Linked DNA regions of Homo sapiens: regions 2, 3 and 4 are each linked to region 1. Evidence: fine-mapped expression QTL. A gene starts in region 1. Each other region holds a variant in brackets. All regions are shown on one strand. Distances are from middle to middle.

Region 1 (5,223 bases):
CGAGACAGGCAGATCACTTGAGGCTGGGAGTTTGAGACCAGCCTGGCCAACATGACAAAACCCCGTCTCTACTAAAATTACAAAAATTAGCCAGGCGTGGTGGCATGCACCTGTAGTTCCAGTTACTTGGGAGGCTGAGTTAGGAGAATTGTTTGAACCCAGGAGGTGGAGGCTGCAGTGAGGTGAGATTGCACCACTGCACTCCAGCCTAGGCGACAGAGTGAAACTCTGTCTCAAAAAAAAAAAAAAAAATCAAAAAGGAAGCGGGGGCTGGCTGTGGTGGATACACCGGCAGAACTCGGATCCAGAGGATAGGTTAGGGAAAGAGTATGGTAACATTGCTACCAATGTGCACAAACTAGGGAAAAAAAAAAAACCACGTAGGTACTGTATATATAATCAAAACATTATGACACTATTTTTCCTGACATTCAGCTGTCCTTCCTCAGAATCTTTGGCTGCTGATTTTTATTTCTGGCAACAATACAAAACCAAAAGACCAAGAGGATTAAAAACAGAAAGAAATGAAAAACAAACAAACAAAAAAACAACCAGTATGTGCAGGACAATTTCAGGGCCTTTGGGATCTGCATCTTTTTCAAGGTAATGTAAGCAGAGATGTCTGCCTTTTGGAGTCATGTCTTCCCTTGGCTCCTGGGGCACTGTATCCTGTGGATCTCGTCTCTCTGTGCCTTCACTGCCTCCACATCTTCCCTAAAAGGGCTCTCTTTGACACCCAGCTTCAGCTCCTGTCCCGGGACCAAAGATTTCCAAATCTCCCACCCTGAGGTCCCTCAGCCCACCTTCATCCTGGCTTGCCCAGCTGCCTTCAGATTCATTCACTCGGATGTCTCCCTCTGATACCACCTCAAGCTCAATATGTCAAGGAGAAACTCACACCTTTCTTCACACCCCTTCCCTAAAACAGCATTTCTTCCTGACTGGTCTACTGCTCTCCAGCACCACCACTTTCCTTGTTCCAACCTTGGAGTTACATAACTAACAGATGCCTCTCTATTGCTCCCAAGTCAGCAGCCAACAAATCCAGGGATTCTTTTCCAAAGTAAGATTCAGTTCTTTCTTTTTCCACAGCCACCACCAAGACTGAGCACCTAACACTCTCTCCTGTATTGGGGCCTTCCGATTTGGCTGCCTACCTCCACAGTTTCTCTGCCACACCATTCCCCCTGCAAGGCCCTGCTTCTGATAATTTAATGTTACTGTTATGCTTTTTGTAAAAATCACAGAACAGTTTCTTAAAAGACAAATTCCAAGGTTGAATGTAAAGTTGTTTATCAGTTTTATTTACCTGTTTTTGTTTTCATACTCTTGAATAAAATCCTTTATTTATATATTGAATTAATATACTCTGGCCCCCACCTGTGTGCCAGCCAAGGATACATAAACATGAACAGAATATGGCTTTTGCCATTTTCTGAAAAGCAAATAGGCCCATGGTAAAACACAAGCACTCATGACAGTTTATTTAGGATGCAGTGAGAAAAGTGCTGTAGCAGAGAGGAATCAAGATAATGCCAAAGTCTTAGGGAGAAAACTGGAAGCATGAAAGATTTTATAGGTGATAAAATATGCAACAGGGCATTAAAACATGAATAAGCACTAGGTAGTTTGGTCTTTACTGTTAGCAAGGGACAGTCTCTCTTTTTTTTTTTTTTTTTTTGAGATGGAGTCTTGCTCTGTAGCCCAGGCTAGAGTCCAGTGGCCCGATCTCGGCTCACTGCAAACTCCGTCTCCTGGGTTCAAGCGATTCTCCTTCCTCAGCTTCCCAAGTAGCTGAGTGAGAATATAGGCATGTGCCACCACCCCCGCCTAATTTTTGCATTTTCAGTACAGACAGGGTTTCGCCATGTTGGCCAGGCTGATCTCGAACTCCTGACCTCAGGTGATCTGCCCACCGCCCACCTCGGTCTCCCAAAGTGTTAGGATTACAGGCGTGAGCCACCGTTCCCAGCTGGACAGTCTCTTTTATAGGTACAGTACACACTCTCCTCTCCCCAGCTGCCATGACTCACTCTAAATTACCCTTCATCCTCTCCCCAGCCTCTTTTAGGACTCCCCTAGGCTTTGCTAATTCAAATTCTGCTTTCTTCCAAGTCCACCTCAAGCCAAGACTAATTTCTCCTCAGCGCTTCCTAGCTCTGATCTTCATGTTCTTCATCTTCTCCTCCCAGTACTGCACAATATCATTTCTTAATCAGAAGGTTAGCCCTACTTTTTAGGACAAAGGTTCTCAGTATTATCATTGTATTTAAATCATCTGTATATGTGTTCGTAGATTTGGCTCAGCACCTAGGAATCTGCTTTTCAACAAGTCCCCAGGGGATCCAAGCACAAAAGGATCCTGGACCACTTTGACCCACTTTGAGGAAGGCTGTGTTAAACCTCTGCGGTTGGCTTTTATATCTCCATATGGGCTGTCCGCAGCCCACGGCGCCTAGCATAGTGTAGGTGCGTTGCTCAGCTCTCTGGCTCCCGGTGTCTGCTCAGCTTGGTGACTATTAGATACCTCAATTATTAATGACACCCAGAGTCAAGAAGAGTAGCTCAGCCAAGTGCACAGAGCTGCCCTCTCCAGAGGAGACTAACTCCTGAGGGATAAGGTCGCTCTGAAAGTCACAAGAGCAAAAGGAAATTACATTTTCTGCCCTCTCAAAAAATGAGCAGCCATCACCCCAAATGACCTTAGTGCATCTCAAATAAACCATGCTTTCAGAGTATGCAAAACGCACTGCAAGTTAAACCGATTGCAAAAGAAAAAGCCCACAGGTACTCCGTGCGCTCAAAGCCATCATCCTCACAAACGTAAAGTGATGCACTCCAAATAGAGATCAAGGAAAACGAATGCCACGCAGGTCACCAGGCTTGGAAAATAGAAGGCACCCGAAGTTGTTCTACGTGGCTGTCCCCAGCCACCCATTCCACCCGCTCGACAAGGGATCCTGGGCCGAGCCCGGCCATCCGCGGGGGCGGGGCCGGGACGGCGGCGGCGCGCTGACGTAACGGGCGTGGGTCGTCCGTCGCGCCGCCCGGCGAGGAGTGGGCTGGCGGCGGTAGCTGTCGCCCGCTTGGTTGCGTGACCGCGGGGTCCGCGTCCGCTCCCTCCACCCTTCGCCCTTCGCCCTTCGCCTCGTTCCGGCCTCCGCGGCCCAGCAACGGCCGTCATGGTGCCGTCGGCGCTCCCTGCGCGGCCCCGCTGAGCCTCGGTGCGGCGGCGAGCGCGGTCGAGATCGCCATGCCTACCCGTGAGTGGCCGGCCGAGGGCCGGGGGCGTTGGGAGGCGACTGCCTGCGCGACGCGCTTGGGCCGGGTACTCCTCCCGGGCGGCTGGGGAGGCTGGGCCGCGCTGAGCAGAGCCAGGAAGTGTCTGCGAGCGGCGGAGTTAGTTTCGTTTCGGCTTAGCCTTCCGGAGATGGCGTGAGCCCGTTGCACGGATCGGGAAACTGAGGCCCGAACGTTAAGGGAACTGCGGGGACGCGCTGTTAGGAGGCGGCAGAGCTGGTGGTAACCTGACCCGTGGGATTTCAAAGTTAAAGCCCTTTTCCCACGGCCACACGGCTTCGTGGGACTTTATGGAAATATTGAAAATAACTGCGGTACCATTGTCAGTCCCTTCTCACCTCGGGCCGGACGTCGCTAGTGGACGCGCCGGCCCCGAGTCCCTTCCCGCGGCCGCCAGACAGACCCCCGACAGCCTAACTCGGCGTCCGTATCGCCGTCGGGGCGGCTGAAGTCGGAGCTTTCTGTGGAGCTTGTTAGGCAGAGGCACCTCGACTGTGGCTTTTGGACCACACTTCGGATTCACCCGGGCAGATGATTAAAAATGCCGGTTTCGGGACCCGCCCTATTCCCATGGAATTAGTCTGGAGCTTGGGCCCCGGAGTCTGCATGTCTAATAAGCGTCCCTGGGGTTACCAAGGCACCCCAAAGTTTAAAAGTCACTCGGTGTTGGAGGATTTTTAGACAGACGCGATACTACAAGTACTGCTAATGACCTATTTTAAAATGACCCAGATAATCGCAGTGTGACTTTATAGCCACTGGTCAATGTGGATATGTGCAAACTAGGGAAGCTCCTGATCTTGGGTAGAGAGGAAGCAACTTTGTCATTGATTTGAGAATTCAAGTAGGACTCCTTTGACTAAGTGTTCAATACTATAGAATCTTTACACACTTGTGAATATATTTCCTAGAATTCATAACTACTTCTAGTTGTCCTTGTTTTGTAGCCATCTGGGACGCTGAATTTCCAGGTCAGTCTCCAATGCACGTTTCGTCTAGTGGTGGGAAAAGATGAGTTATTTCTTGATATTATAAAGATTGATATTTTCCTGATATTTAAGGATATTAAATTTAAATTGATATTAAAGATATTTAAATATCTTTTTGAGATTTAAAGATTTTCCTGTGGCAAATCTTTACATAGTCCTGATGTAGAGATTACTTTTAACTCCTCATACATGTGTGGGTACTGTGGATTTTGTTTTCTTCACACACTACTGTGTGTCCTTAACTCACGTTCTTGGACTTCGCATCCAGTAAATATGTCCAGTTTAAATTTCTGTTTTATTCCTTTTGGCTGGAGGAATATCATTTACAATCATCTTCATTGTTATTGCCAGTTTAGTACTTCTAAATTCATGTTCACGTTATTCAGTGAATATCTGAGACTAGCACTATGCTAATCTTTTATTTTCTGAGAAACCAAAGGGGAGGAGGTAAGCACCTATTGAAAGTTGAGGCTTCAAGTAGAATTTATTGGTAACATGCCAGAATTATCCTGTGAAATAAAATTTTTAGTTATGTTCTAGGGTTATCTAGCTTCACAGAGTGGATATAGTAAACTCGTTTCTTTTCAAATGTTGAGTTCATTCTGCAAAATGATTTTAGGATGGGCCATGGTGGAGTTTACATAGTTAAGAATGCAGATTTCACACCCTGACTGGAAGACAAGTGAAATGTTTGTTTTATCTGTCATTGTTAATATTTGTCATGGTACATTTTTTATGACTGAATAAAAATGTGCTGTGGATTGATTGGGGGTACCAGTGTGAGGTGAATAGTGTTCATATTTGCCTTTTCTCTCCTTTGGCAGTCACAGCTGCCGAAATTGCTGGGATAGTGCAGTGGACAACAATATTTCTTTGAAATTCTGTTTGTAGAATATATATCCAACACAGAGATGGCAAAATTGTTATTCTCTGT
Region 2 (5,000 bases), 83 kb after region 1:
AGAATGACATACATGCAGTTGTTTAATTAGAGTTGCGTAAGTGTTATGTAATAGAAGGACAGTATGCAATGGCCATATATGCATGTCCGTGTGTGTGTGTATATATATATGAGAACAGGAAAGGCTTTCCTAGGGAAGAGAGTTTAAGTTGGAAAAATTAACTCTCTTGTAAAAGAACATTTGTTTTCCTTTCAGAATTGTTTTAGAAAATAACTTCTGATAAAGTGGCATTTTTGTTAGCTTTCCAAACTACCTGCAGTTTTCCAGTGTAATCAGAGAAAATGCTGGTGAAGTATAAGAACTTGATCTCTCTGATGTGTTTGTTTCTTATTAAAGGACAGTGCAATTATCAATGAGGATAATTTGCCAATGTTCCATCGTTGTGGAATCATGGCACTGGTTGCAGCATACCTCAACTTTGTAAGTCAGATGATAGCTGTCCCTGCATTTTGCCAGCATGTTAGCAAGGTAATGTATTTAGAAAAGTCCTTAAACTTGAATTTTGTACAAAATTGCTAATTTTATTCCAGTGATGATTATTTTTAACTTTGGTGATTACGTATCAAATTAAGGTAATTCTATAAAAATCTACAGCCAGTAAACTGAAACTACAGCTAAAACTGTAGCTACTGTTTTTATATTTTCTTAGATGCATGTTGTTTTATTATAATAGTTTAATGTAGTGGTTGAATGGAATATGTGGTTTTCTTCTAGAATACCTTATGTGATTTATTCTATGACTTTTTTCCTTTGAACCCTTATGACTCTTAGTATGTAAATTTTCTTAAATTATACTCTTTTGTTGTTTATTCTAAACTACTTGAGGCAGATCTCAAAAGTTGAATAATTACTGTGCATCTCAGAGAATTGTCTTGTGTCTTTCAAATATATTTAGTTGTCTTTAGCAGTAACTCTTACATGGTTATTTGCATGACTTAATAAACATTTCAATGCCCCCAAGTTACCTAGCAGAAAAAGTCCACTTTTAAAGACATCTGTAAGAGAGAACTTTATTTTTCTTAAATTGGAAGCACATCATTTAGTCCTTGCTAAAATGTAGACTTGTAGTGTACTCTAAGAAACAAAACTCATCCATTCATTAATCAGACATTTGAGTGAATATTTGATGCCCACCACTAGAGAAGTAAATACTACAAAAGCAGAGTACCTCTTTGCTCACAGTTCATTGGAGGAGCCAGTCCACACAAGTGCCTGGAGACCTTGTACACAGGCTGCAAAAGGTAATGCAGCAGGTGGAGGATGGTGATTTGTAAAGCGATTTCCAAAATAGTGCATTTGAGAAAATAGATATTCTTGCTTTATTATAATAGGCTTAATCAAATGTAATGTGTCATCATTTTTTGCTTTATATATTATTTTATTGTCACAGTTTTATCTGTTAAATTTTAAAAATAATAGATGTGAAAACAAAACAAACTTTACATTTGGGCTGTAAACTTAGCTTAAATTCAAAAACAAAGTGATGTTATTTCTTATAAATGTTTAAAGTTGTTTTTTTTTAAGCTGTTTTCTGAATTTTTATAGCAAGGTACTGAGGGGTAGGGTTTTTGATTTTTGTTCTGTTTTTGAATATTTTTTAGGTTATTGAAATTCGAACTATGGAAGCCCCTTATTTTCTACCAGAGCATATCTTCAGAGATAAGTGCATGTATGTTAATTCTTTACATTTTAAGGATGGGGTACTGACTTGATAAACCCATCAGTAATAATTATAAAGGAGTAAATATTGTTACAATAATTCCTGGTGCTTTATACTAATCATCATTTTGTGTCTGTCATTTAATTCATTTAATTATTTCCCTTGTTATAAAAGGGCCTGCACATTATGGATGTTGACTTATGCACAACATGGAGTCAATCTTGAAAAAATTTTTTAAGAATAAGACTTGGCCAGGCGCAGTGGTTCACGCCTGTAATCCTAACACTTCGGGACGCTGAGGCGGGTGAATCACCTGAGGTCAGGAGTTTTAGACCAGCTTGGCCAACATGGTGAAACCCCGTCTCTACTAAAAAATACTAAAATTAGCTGGGTATGGTGGCATGTGCCTGTAGTCCCAGCTACTCAGGAGGCTGAGGCTGGAGAATCGCTTGATCCCAGGAGGTGGAGGTTGCAGTGAGCCAAGATCACACCACTGCACTCCAGCCTGGGTAAAAGAGCAGAGCGAGACTCCATCTCAAAAAAAAAAAAAAAAAAAGAATAAGAAAACTTACCCCACTTTTTAAAAACTGTTGGATATGTCTCTTAAATATAGCATATTTTATGTTCTCATATGTAAATGATCAAACCTTTAAGAGAGTACAGTATCCTGTTGAAGACGTTCAGTAATAGGTAACAATACTCAAAATATTGTGGAAGAAAGAATGTATTAAGGAAAATCCGTGTTATTTCCTGCATTATTTCTTGTTCTCTAAAGAAAAGTATATATATGAATAATATTTTGTTTGAACTTTTGGGCTATAAAAGCAGTTTATTTTGAAAGCATCAGC[A/G]TAAGATAATATCAAGCAGTTTGCAAGGAAAGTGAAACCTTATGTGGGTGGGCAAGTACTTCCTTACACTTAGCTGGCTAATGTGGTTTTCATTAACAATCAGTGGGCTAATGATTTTTTTTTTATTTTGTCTCTCAGTACACTTTTTAATTAACATGACAATAAAAGCTACATTTAGTGTTCTTTATTACTTAACAAGTAAAGATCAACAGAGTAATACAAGGCTGAATTCACTATTGGAATGTTACTGAGAGAAGAATCACTGCAGAATGGTTAATATATGGGACCACATACTGTGTGTTTTTAAAGAGCTCAAATTAGTTGCCTAAAATATACTGATTTTTCTGCTACTACAGTTTACATTGTGTTTATATTTAGAATATTGAGGCTTTTGCTCTGGAATGTTTTGCATAGTAACTTATTTTTGCTCAGTAATTTAATACTGAATGATTGTTGTTTTGATGAACTTCGCAGGCTTCCAAAATCTTTAGAGAAGCATGAAAAAGATTTGTACTTTCTGACCAACAAGATTGCAGAGTCGCTAGGTGGAAGTGGATATAGTGTTGAGAGATTGTCAGTTCCGTATGTACCACAAGTAACAGGTAAGAGGAGGATAATTAGAACTTTCACTCTGGTGATTGCTTATGTTATAGTAAATTTTTCATTACCCAGTTAACAATGAAAATTAATTCTGGTGTGTGTCCTTACTATAGCCCAGCCATTTTCAAATGCTTAAGAGTATTTACTTCTGTTTTTTAATTTTGCTATTGAAAACCTTCAGTAAATCTCTAACGACATAGATATGATTTTACCAGGAGCAAATCAAGTCCTTGAATATTTATTGTTACAATACTTAATATTTTATTTAATAGTATATTTTAAAGTGAGATCTTTTCTCATTAAATGATATTCTATTTAAGTTATGGAAATTGATGAAAATTGTTTAATGATAAGTGATTATTTAGGTTAATGAATTAGGCAACTTTCGTTATTTGAAAGAGTACAGACTTGTTATATAAATAAAACTACAAACTTTTTGAGTTAGGAATTTTTTTTTCTCTGTGAACTATATATTTTCTCTGTGAACTATATATTTTCCCATTGCTTGAAATAATTCTGTTTGAAGGCAAAATTGCATAGTGTCTTGTATTCAACTTTTACTGTAAAAATTAAAATCAAAGAATTTATGTCTTATGCTTTCATTTTAATTTGGTGACTATATAAATATTAAATTTTGTAAGTGAATTAGTTCTTTGGGGATACCTCTGTTCTACAAGAGAACCATTTGATTTCACTTAGAAAGATTTCTGGATTAGTCACTACAAGTAGTGCAGTCTTTGTAAATGGCTTTTTTTTAATAACATGGATCCAAAATATATACATTTAGTACAGTAATAGTTGTTCATAACAGTCTGAGATGTTAATGAGTGCTTTTGCATTTTCTTTTAAATTTTATGCTTTAAAAGATTGTGTTCCTCAGGAACTCCTTGAGGAAATAAAAGTGCTAAGAACAAAAGATTATTAGAGCTTTATAATTTAAAATATTAAAAAAACATTTAAAATATTTTACTCTTATAATTTGAATTTAGCTCTCTTTCCTTCAAGCAAAAAACCTCTTAAACCCAGGCACAAGCACAAAGGTAAATCCAGTTGTCAGTTTGGCCTGCCTTTTCCCTTACCTGTCCTCTAGGAAAATAGCTTAATAAAATGTGCCTTTTAGAAAATGGGGCCAGTGGCCTGCATATTTTCTATAATTAGTTTAATTATTATTTTCCTTTATCTTCCTTATAGCCCTAGTTTATTTTTACCCCTGTTATTTCTTTTTACCCTGTTCCTTTAACTCTTAACAATTTTTAATGAAAGCTCTGGTACTTTCAAAATTTTTAACAAATGGTCTGCACTTCCCTGATTCCTCCCATCCCTAAAAAAGATGTATTCTCTCATAATGCATCTCTACCAATGACTAGAAGAATTCTGAATATTTTAGTGTCTACTTAATTGTATAACTGCACTACTAGAAATCCTACTAGATTTTTCTGATTTGTGAAGACTGATAGTTTAGAACCTATCTGTGGCATTAGTATCCTACCTTAATGCAGAAACAGAATAAACAGTGATATTTTATGGGATACTGAATCTGTAATTAAATTTCCTTTTGCTGTGTAACCATCAGATATTCATTTAAAAAATTCAAGGGATTTAAGAACAATGTATTAAAATAAAAAGCAGAACATATTTAGTTTGTTGTGTGTCATGTAGTACCCATCATCATCACAATAGTAGCTACCATTTATTATGCACTGTGTGCTAGGCACTGTGATAAGTGCTTAGTATTCATTTTCTTATGTAATTCTCATAATGGTTTGGTGAGGAAGATAGCATTATCTTTGTTTACAAATGAGTATAGTGAGGCTAAAATTGAATTAAATGATTAGGTGACACCACTAACAGCCTCTCCAGTTAGTTGCTTAATAAATTATTTGATTTCACTA
Region 3 (5,000 bases), 73 kb after region 1:
ACTTTATCCTTAGAGTTAATCATGTTGAAGACTCCTACCCAATTTTAAGTTAAAAAAAAATCAAAGCAATTCTAAAGCATATATTAGTTGCATTTCTTTCCTACTATTATTATTTTTAGGTCTTTAATAGTCGTTTGTCTAATTAACATCAGAGATAGTGGACTCAGTTGACCATATACTTGGGAGACAAAAATAAGAGTTTTTCCTTAGGACAGTGGTTCTTAACTTTGTTGAACGTTGAAATTACCTCAGGATCTTAGAAAAGTACTGATGCTTGGACTCCCACCCCCAGATATTCTGACTTAATTACTTTGGTATGTAACCTATGCATCAGCATGTTAAAAGCTCCCCTAGGTAATTATAATATGCAGCAAAGCTTGGGAACCACTGGATTAGAGGAAACTATTCCACGCATTTGAAAAGCATGAAGAATGACCTTGAATCAGAGATACAAATGTTGTTGAATACAGGGAAGTATGATAGTGCTTGCTAACTCCAAACTTTTACTGTAGTTAGGTGCTGTGGTAAAGAGAAGTGCAGGGTACTTTATGTCCTTGTGGTAATAACTAAGTTGTTTGAAACAGAAGGTCAGTGTCCAGTTTTCTGCAAGACTAGGAATGTATCTAGTTGTATGGAAGAAGTATAGAATAATAATAGCATAAGCTTTGGAAATAAATAACCCTTACCTCAGGCCCTAATGTTAGCTGTGTAATTTTTTGGTAAGAGTTCTTGACTTCTCTTATCCTCATTTCCATAAGAGGAAACTGAGACAAATAATAGAACCTAGACTCAAAAGGTTATTTTGCGGATCCAAATACAAAATAGTTTCTTATTCCATAAATATGTATTCCGTAAGTGTTAACAACAATATACTTTATGGAGATGGAGTCATGTTAAGGTTATGAGATTTTTGACTGCTAATGTACGTGATTGTGGGAAATGACTTTTACCCCTAAGTCCAATCAAAATGATGAATAGAACAGTTTGAGTTTATATAAACACATCATTAACTCCAGTAATAGAAGCTCAACAGTTACATTGAAAAGTCAGCTTATTCTTAAAAAATACTAAAAATGCAGAAAGTTTCTGTAATGACTACATTGAATTTTAAGAAAGGAACATAACAGCCATGATTTGATAGTCTGTTCCAATCTTTCAAAGAAATAAGAAACTTTTAAAGTGTGAGTAATTGATAATTAAAGGTTATAAATCTTTTGTGACCAGGAAGTAAGTATCAAAAGCTACAGCAGATAAATTTAAAATATTCTCAGAAACTAGACTGCATAAGAAAAATGACAAGTAAGTTATTTACTTATTTTTTACATCAGTTGAATTATGTATGTTGAATTAATTCACAGGGGTAAACTATAAACTTGGCTTATTACAATGACATTCAAATATTTGAGAAATCCTGGAAAACCAGAGTAGTGACTAATTATTAACTTCTTTACCAGACAATGTGTGGCCTGATTACCGGAACAAAAATTTAGGCTTACGATGTGTGAACTAGAATTTCATCAGAAATACTACCAAAATATTTTTCCTTCTTTTTTTTTTCCTATTTTTTTTTTTTTTTTTTTTGGAGACAGAGTTTTGCTCTTGTTGCCCAGGCTGGAGTGCAGTGGCACGATCTTGGCTCACCGCGACCTCCACCTCCCAGGTTCAAGCAATTCTCCTGCCTCAACCTCCTGAGTAGCTGGGATTACAGGCATGTGCCACCACGCCCAGCTAATTTTGTATTTTTAGTAGAGACGAGGTTTCACCATGTTGGTCCGGCTGGTCTCGAACTCCCAACCTCAGGTGATCCGCACACCTCGGCCTCCCAAAGTGTTGGGATTATGGGCATGAGCCACTACACCCGGCCAATATTTTTCCTTTTTCTAAAACTCCAGTCAACTCAAGTCAGTCCCGGTTTGTCACTGTTATAATTATATAAAAAAAGACTTTGATATATTTATCATTTTATCTACCAGTCCATTATACACAGTTTATATTGTACATAACTAAATGATTTTGTACAAATGAAATTGTAATATCCTTTAATGTTACATGTAGCTTACAGACTTGTGAGGGATTGTTTTACCACATATTGAAAACTTTGGCTAAAAATAATTTTGTATTATATGGAAAAGTAGACTTTTTCAGTTTCTAAAATTTGTCTTAATACTTTCATAGGATTTTTTGGAAGTAACCTACCAGATTATCAGAGGTCAGAAATCATGATGTTCATTATGGGGAAAGTACCTGTCTTTGGAACATCTACCCATACTTTGGATATCAGTCAACTAGGGTATGTTCTCAGACTGTAAATTTGAACTTAATCTTGAGTTACATTTTATCCTAACGAAATCTAGAAAATGTTAACGTTTTGTTTTTTTTTAAAAATCATTAGTAATAGCATTCCTATGGAAAGCAGTTAGTATTATTATGACAGTAGATTGCTAAGCAATTGAATTAGCATTTTTAGGCCTTTAGAATCATTTTCAGCTTATAAATTCTCAGATATTTCCATCTTTAGAAATTGTTTGGCCTGGACATTGTGTGTGTGCATACACATTTAGGGTAAAGCTTCAAGTTTCCTGTATAAATTTTAAACATTAATGTCAATATATCAGAA[A/T]TATTGGCTTATTCCTAGAATTTTAGAACTGAAAGTAATTTTAAAGATTATGTGACCCCCTTATTTTATACATTTAATTGGATTTTATAATATGCTGAAGTTTTTGTTTGTGAATGTTGTTTTGTTAATTTAATAAGGAAGTAATAGTATCTTATTCGACTTACATTTCTTTGACCATAATTTGTTATTTTTTAAAATTGTTCTTACCTGTTTATTCATATTTGTTAAAGAAAGATTATATTCATCAACTATGTAGTAATTATTTTCTCCAATTTAAGGTACCTTAATTTGGGTTGTTTAGTTGTCTGTTTATATGATTTAATTTTCTTGTCATCAGATGCATAGGACTGTTTGAGAGCCAATAACAAATTTTTTGTTTGATATTTTTAAATATAATAGTTTTAATTCACGTGAAATTTTACTTTGGCATGTGAAGTGAGCCATGACTTAAACTGTTACAAAAATAAAATCTATTTAGCCAATAAGAATAGAATTTTAAAATCAGTAATTGAAGTAAATGAAGTAATATAAATGCTAATTAGTATAATAATTCAGCCTTTTGTATATTTTAGGGATTTGGGAACCAGGAGAATTCAGATAATGTTGCTGAGATCTTTGCTTATGGTAAGGCATTTAAGACAAATAAAGGACACACTTAACCTTAAATTACTGAAAACATTAATTGAATAGCTTCATGTTACAACCGTTCTTTCTTAAGTAAGTTACTGTTTATGGTTAGTATTTTATTATGTTCTTCATTTTAAAGATTATCCAATTTTTTTACCGTTTATTTCTCACTTCTTCTGTCACTGTCTTTGATCTTCATAATGATGAAACATACAGAGGGCAGAAACTATTGCTGTCTTATAGACGAAGATACCTGGGCCCAGAGACTGTGAGTGGAAGGAGTTGATAAGGTCCACCAAAGTCACTGGGCTAAAAAACAGAACTCAGACTTGAAATCCAAAGTTCTTTCAACATATTATGCTAATTCTTTCTCATACTGACCAAATAATTGCTTCTGATTGGGAAAATAATTCATTAAAATGAATATTTGCCATTTAAAATTTGAAGTGGCTATAAGTAGCTGAAAAGGAAAAGTATACCCAGAATGAAAGGTCCTCTGGTTATTGTCTAGCAATTGTACTCATATTTGATTCAGCCATTGCTAGCACATATGCGTCCTCTCAAAATCAGTATCTTTCAGATTTATCCTAGAAATGTTTACTATACATGATCTAATTTTTTAAACAGACTCTCTCAAGTGCAGAAATACCTTGTGTGGTTGTATTTTTAATTTTTTTTAATTCTGTTTATGGCGCTTGTCATTTAGAAGTTTTGAATTCTAATATAGCCAGATTTATCAGTTTTTTCTATATGTTTTGCACTTTTTCATTTGTATCTTATATAAGAACTCCATTCCTCCTCTGATGATATAAACACATTTGTTTGTATTTTCTTATAGCAGTTTTAAAATTTTAGCTCTCTACATTTAGAACTTTAATCTGAAGTTTATGTTTATATGTGGTATGAGGCATGGATTTTCCCAGATGGGTAGACAGTTGTCCCACCAGTTTCCCAGCTGACTTATAAAACTATCTCCATCCTATAATAAATGCCCAAATGTAAATGTTAAGTATTCCATACATGTTTATAATCCTGAAAATATGTTGAGATCTCCCACCTGCAATTTAATTTGATCCTAAGCCTTTATTTATATTAAACAAATTCCCTAAGTAAATTATTTTGCCTTGCCTTTCTGATTATACCATATAGTCAACTGAATATATGTTATGCTTAAAATGTTTAATAGCATTTAAGTATATTCTCTTTAAAAGTTTTATGTTTAGAAGATATTGACGTACTCTTAAATGTCAAATCAAGTAACTAAGTACAGCTTTCCAAAATGAAAATGTATTCCTATTAACCAACTGCCTAATTTAAAATGAAAGAATAATTTGCAAACTTAAATTTAAAATTTGCAGGTCTTACTTTTACTCTTTGTCACCTAAGCTCCTTATATCTGTTTTGTACTAACCTTAACCTCTCTGTGCCTCAGTTTCTCCTTATGAATGGCGATTCACTAGTGTCTACCTTACAGGGATATGGTGAGGACAAAGTTAATACATATGCAGTGCTTAGAATCATGCCTAACACATGGTAAATGTGTGCTATTATTAACTTTATTTTTCTTATGAATGATGTTTTTGTAAATTCAGCAAAATCCTTCATTACTTTGCACATTTCTTTTATGTCTTTTCTCCAGGCTTCTGTCCATATTTTCTTTCCTAAGTTTATGGTTCTTATAAAAGAATATGAGAATTTTACAAAAAAAGGACTCATGACAAAAGGTTGTTTGTTTTCTTCTCGATAATCAGGTGAC
Region 4 (5,000 bases), 26 kb after region 1:
GAAATGGTTTTTAGCAAGAGCTTTTTTTAGGAACCATAACGTGTGTGCCAATCAGTTACCAGCTATCTGTTAATTTTTTGGCATTGAGTTTATTCATTTACAATTTACAACTTCTTTTGTCTCTTCACTTACTGGAAATTGAATTATCGTTTATTATTTTAGAAAAAAAACCAAAAAGTTAAAAAGTGAGAGTATAAAAAGATGAATGAGAAGAGCCCTTCCCTTATGAAACTACCCGGAAACAAGTTAAAGAACAGATATAGATGTGATGAACTGTGAAAGCCTTGCAAATTCCCATCCTTTTAGAACTTCCTGTTCATCATGATTTTGCAAGCATTGATAGTAATTCTGCAGCTATAATCTTAAAATTGTCTTCTGACAATGGAAAATAAAATCTGACAACTATAATTTTTTGAATTTTAGTCTTTCTAGTTTGGGAACTTCTTGAAGACATACATGTTGCATTCCTGGCACTTTGCGTGTAGTTAAGTACCTTATAAACCTAATTGATTGGTTGACTAGTCATGAAATACTTAAAATGTTCTTTGAATGTCTCTCCTGGAAGAATGCTTCAAATGTGGAACTTCTGTTACTGTGTGTATTATAAGAATAAGATAGTTGCCCAATTCTTGATCCTGTTAGAAGAAATCTCTGCTTTTCTTATACGTTCGACATTAAATGCTAAATGAAGGGTGGGGTTTCTGCAGACATTATACAATTTTTTTCTTCAGACATTTATCATCAGATTTTCCTTTTGTTGTTATTCTGATCAATTATTTTATCCTACAGCATTTACTAGAAATTATAAAATGTAATCTTAAATTCTGTATTTTAGATAGCAGACTTTTATCTTGCCAAAAGCTGATTAAAGTAGCAATAAATTAGTAAATCCTCATAAAGGAAATTTCTTATTACCTAAATAATAAGTTATAATCTTGTTGTAAACTATGTTATCAGTTTCTCCTTTTTCCATGTCAGATGTGGTCTATAGAACAATGATTTTCAGTCTGGATATTCTGAAACTGCCACTGTTGTGATTTATTTTGGTCACAATATTTAGTCCATCTTGAAATTTTAAATTACATTATTGTAAAATCATGTTTTCCTTTTTACTTGCATTTAAAATATTCTTAATTTCTTTTTCTGATGTTTCCTCATTACTGGAGCGTTTTTTTAAAGTCCATGTATCTTATCTCTATAATTGGTACCTTTGTAAAAAGTACAGTATTTGAAAAATTATTCTTTGCATTTTCTAACACAATCCTTTTGTAATTTTCTTTCTGTTTATTCAGAGGTCTTCTCTTTCTGCTCTTATTGTGCTGATCATCCCTTAAATGTTTTCTTACCTCAGGATTCTCTAAGTCTCCTATTTGCCTTCAGTGATCTCAGCAGATTTGCTTTTGCTATCACTTAAATGCTTTTGGTTTTTAAATTTGTTTCTAGTTTAGATCAATTGTCTGCTACAGGATATCCCACCTTCAAGTTTACCTCAAATTTAATATGTGCAAAACAGAATTCATTCTCTCTTCTTGATATCCTCCTTTTACCCCAGAGTGTATCCTCTTGTGTTCCTTGTTGGTCAGTGACACTAGCATCCAACCAGTTGTCCAAACTTTCCTGTCTCTTCCTCTTTACCTTCTATACTCAGTTGTTTCCAAGTCAGCTTCCTGCAAGTTTGCCTAGGCATTTTTCTCATGTTGCAGAACTTTATGCTTACTTTCAAATTAAAACCACATTGTTTAAACCTCTTAAGAGCCTTAATAGATGTGGCTCCCTTTGCCTGGGAATAATAATCCTCTCCTCTTTGCCTAATTTCTACTTTTTCTTCAAGACTTAATTTAGTCATTACTTCTTGCAGAAAGGTTTGTTATCCCATTAGCTATTATCTCATAGCAACCTGTGATAGTTGTTATCACAGAGATAATTCTTTCTGTATGTGATTATCTTTTCCCACCAGACTACGAGCTACTAAATGGCCAGGGATTGTGGCCTGTATTTGTATTCCCTACATTTAGTTTAGTGCCTAGGGCATGGTAGGCTTCACTAAATGATTGTTAAAAGAATACATGAGATTGGGTATTGTTTTTCCCATTTATGTATATTTCTGAGGCACATTTGTTTTTTGGTTTTCAGAGGGTAGCAGTTTCACCTGTGTCCCTCTCTGAGTTGAGAACCAACTGAAATACAGAAATATAAGAGTCAGTTTGAAGCAAG[T/A]CAAAATACCAGTTTTACTACTAGTAAAGCTGGGTTGGAGAATGCATCTTGATCTTTGTCCATTATCAGTCTTTCTGTTACTTTTCCTCCAAATCTAAACTTTCCAATGATGTATCTGAGGGACACCCCAAGTTAGCAGAGCAAACACATTGACCAAGCCTTTTGCAAGGAAGGCACATTGATTCAAACTGCCCTATAACTCCATGGAGATCATGTAAAGATACACACTTCCAGACCCAGGTATGCTTATAAGCAGGAAGAATGAATTGCAGACTGCACATCTGAAGGAGAAACTCTTAAGAGTTTGTTTATTCATTCATTTAACAAATAGATATTGAGCTCTTACCATGTGCTGGATGGACATTGTGCAGATGGTGCAGATATAGATTTGGTGCTTATGTTTTAGAGCCTACTAGGTTCCTTTTTTCCAGACTGACGAGTAAAATAAGTCACTTTTCCTCTTATAGCAGAAGTCTTCTCTAGGGAAGATAGGAACAGATGAATAGAATAGTTTATCCAAAGGTATAACCTGTTCTCTAGCCATTGCATGTAAAATAATTCCCAAGGACTGATAATTTTAAGAACACGGTGGAATGAAATACAGAGAAACATATCAGCACAATCTTAAGAGAAATTTCAAAGGTCTGGTCATGTTTTAGAAAAACGTGGAAAATTTGATCATGATAATTTCACTTTTCCTTTACTATACTTGAAATACTTGGCTTAGGATTTTAAAGACCATTTAGTCATGATTTATTTCTGACATGAGTCTGCTAAGTATTCATTTATACAAGTTACTTAGAAAATCTACTCCCTAATGAGGTCTGGTGGCAGCATTTGAAAATAATGGGGAAATTCTAGTGGTCTTAGCCACAAATACCAGCTCCCTGTTGCCAGTGATAGGTCTTTATCACATCAGCATCTCCTGTGAAGTCTTTTCTGAATGTCATAGCATTCATTATTTTTCTCACTCATTTGGTCTCCTGGTTCTTTATAGTGCTATTTATGATTCAGTTATTGTAATATATAAGATGATCTTACGAGGTGCAGCCTATATTATAACTTATCTATTGCATAACTTAGGTAAGGACAGTTTCCCGAATACCTGAAGTACACAATAAGAAAAAGTCATATGCTAAATTCTCTACATCATTATACAAGGGGAGTGGTTCTCTAGAGCAATGGCTCCCGAATGAACGTGGGTGTGCATGAGGGCCATGGTGGGAGGGGGAGGCTTATTTTTAGAAAGAAGAATTCTGGTATGCCATCCCAGGGATTGATTCAGAAAGTCCTGGGTTGGGGGCAGGGAGTATTCACTTTTAAAAGTAATCTAGGAGATTCTTCTTCAGAGGGCTCATAGGCCACCCTTAGAGAAGCATTGTACTATGGAAACATAGTTCGCTTTGATTGTATTTATTCCAAGGCAACCTTGTACAATTAAAGAATAAATACAAACAGTAAGAGAAGATTTTTATGAATGTTGATTTTGTTAGGGAGTTAGAAGTTGTGGTAATTGTTTCTTAGAGATGTGTTAATGTTAAACGTTTGATAGATAAATCAGTATAATTAGGTATATATAGTTATACCCCAAGACTGAGGGTAAATCCAGTCATTTTCTATTGTTACTATTTTGTTTGCATCTAGCTTTGTTTTTAGTAAAAGAACTATATATTTTGTTTTCTGTAATGTTGATTTCTTACAATCTCAATATATATTAGACTGCTTAATATCAGGAACCAGTTGTATGAATATTTGCAAATTTCACAATGCCTTATATGTAGTAGACATTTTATAAAACATTTTCATTACAAATGTTGAGTAAATGAGCTTTCTATAAAAATTGTTGCATTATTTGATACATGGTAAGTATTATAGTTATTATATATGAAAAAAAACCAGCTAACATCTTAGGGTTTTTCATTTGTTTTACTGGTCTTCTATGTTTCTTTTTGTCTTCATCTTTTTCTGCCCTGACTGGATTCTTGCTGCTTTTCTTCATTTTGCAGTTGTAGCTGAAAATTTGACTATTTGATACCTTTAGACATGTTCCAATACGCAGGAGAATAAGTAGGATTATCCTGGCTCCTGGTTTGCCTAGGATGGTCAAAGTTTATGCCACTGGTCCTGGCATAATTAATGATAGCACCCCCCAGCCACTCTCAAAATGCCAAATTATATAAATTCCTTTGAAGCTTGAAACCATGTAAATAAGTGATTTGCAAGTTGAGTTCTTGCCTTCACATATTCTTGCCACAATCCCATTTTTTGTTGTACTAATGTTATTGGTTCTTTCTGTATTTTGATTTCTAATTGTGAGCATTTTTGAGACCCCCTAATTTGAGGTGTCTTTATTTTTTATGAGAATTTTTCTGTTTTGTATGTGGAATTTTTAATTTACCTTAATAGTATTTTTAAACTACAGAAGATTTTAGTTGTCTCAAAATAATTTGTTCTTTTAAAATGGTTTAGAAATGAGTGACAGACAGTTCCTGGGCCATTAGCTTATGTTCAAGCATTGATATAACAAAAGCAGTTTTCAAAAAGACATTTAACAATGTTCCTTGGTGTTCCATGAATATTTATTCAGGTTGTTAGAAGTCCTTTACAGGAAATATTTAGCTTATAAATAGGCTAATAAAGGGGAAGCTGTAAGTTCAGTTTCTTTTGTCCTCTTGGCATTAAAGGAAGCTGTTACCAGAAACACAGATCTCAGTTTTTAAGGTAAAATACTCCTATACATGTTAGCTAGCTTTGTTACTTTGTGTATTTACCAAGATTTTCTCTAA

Direction of the effects. Alleles are on the strand shown, and positions count from the first base shown. SD is a standard deviation of normalised expression in the study named. Not every link is listed here.
For the expression in transverse colon of the gene that starts at base 3,034 in region 1, allele T in region 3 goes with a higher level than allele A (small effect, 0.24 SD a copy in GTEx).

What was found. PIP is the estimated chance that this variant, and not a neighbour inherited with it, causes the effect. A credible set is the group of variants that fine-mapping cannot tell apart.
Region 2: its variant is the best candidate, but not a certain one, in a credible set for the expression of EFR3A in monocytes (TOPMed, PIP 0.85).
Region 3: its variant is the best candidate, but not a certain one, in a credible set for the expression of EFR3A in transverse colon (GTEx, PIP 0.51).
Region 4: its variant is the best candidate, but not a certain one, in a credible set for the expression of EFR3A in whole blood (TOPMed, PIP 0.71).

Annotation. Positions count from the first base shown.
Region 1 is chr8:131,901,060-131,906,282 of GRCh38, forward strand. EFR3A (EFR3 homolog A) reads left to right here and starts at 3,034. Exons shown (of 23, transcript NM_015137.6): 1 at 3,034-3,263. The coding sequence starts at 3,254. RefSeq lists a silencer at 2,931-3,410 and an enhancer at 3,981-4,030.
Region 2 is chr8:131,984,593-131,989,592 of GRCh38, forward strand. It overlaps EFR3A (EFR3 homolog A), which reads left to right. Exons shown (of 23, transcript NM_015137.6): 16 at 337-468; 17 at 1,602-1,669; 18 at 2,983-3,110. Among named protein-coding and RNA genes, the nearest start is that of OC90, 72 kb to the right of the region's middle. The variant A/G (reference allele first, on the strand shown) is at 2,509.
Region 3 is chr8:131,973,852-131,978,851 of GRCh38, forward strand. EFR3A (EFR3 homolog A) reads left to right here. Exons shown (of 23, transcript NM_015137.6): 11 at 2,176-2,290; 12 at 3,190-3,241; 13 at 4,996-5,000. Among named protein-coding and RNA genes, the nearest start is that of EFR3A, 72 kb to the left of the region's middle. The variant A/T (reference allele first, on the strand shown) is at 2,618.
Region 4 is chr8:131,927,638-131,932,637 of GRCh38, forward strand. All of the region lies in intron 1 of EFR3A (EFR3 homolog A), which reads left to right. Among named protein-coding and RNA genes, the nearest start is that of EFR3A, 26 kb to the left of the region's middle. The variant T/A (reference allele first, on the strand shown) is at 2,215.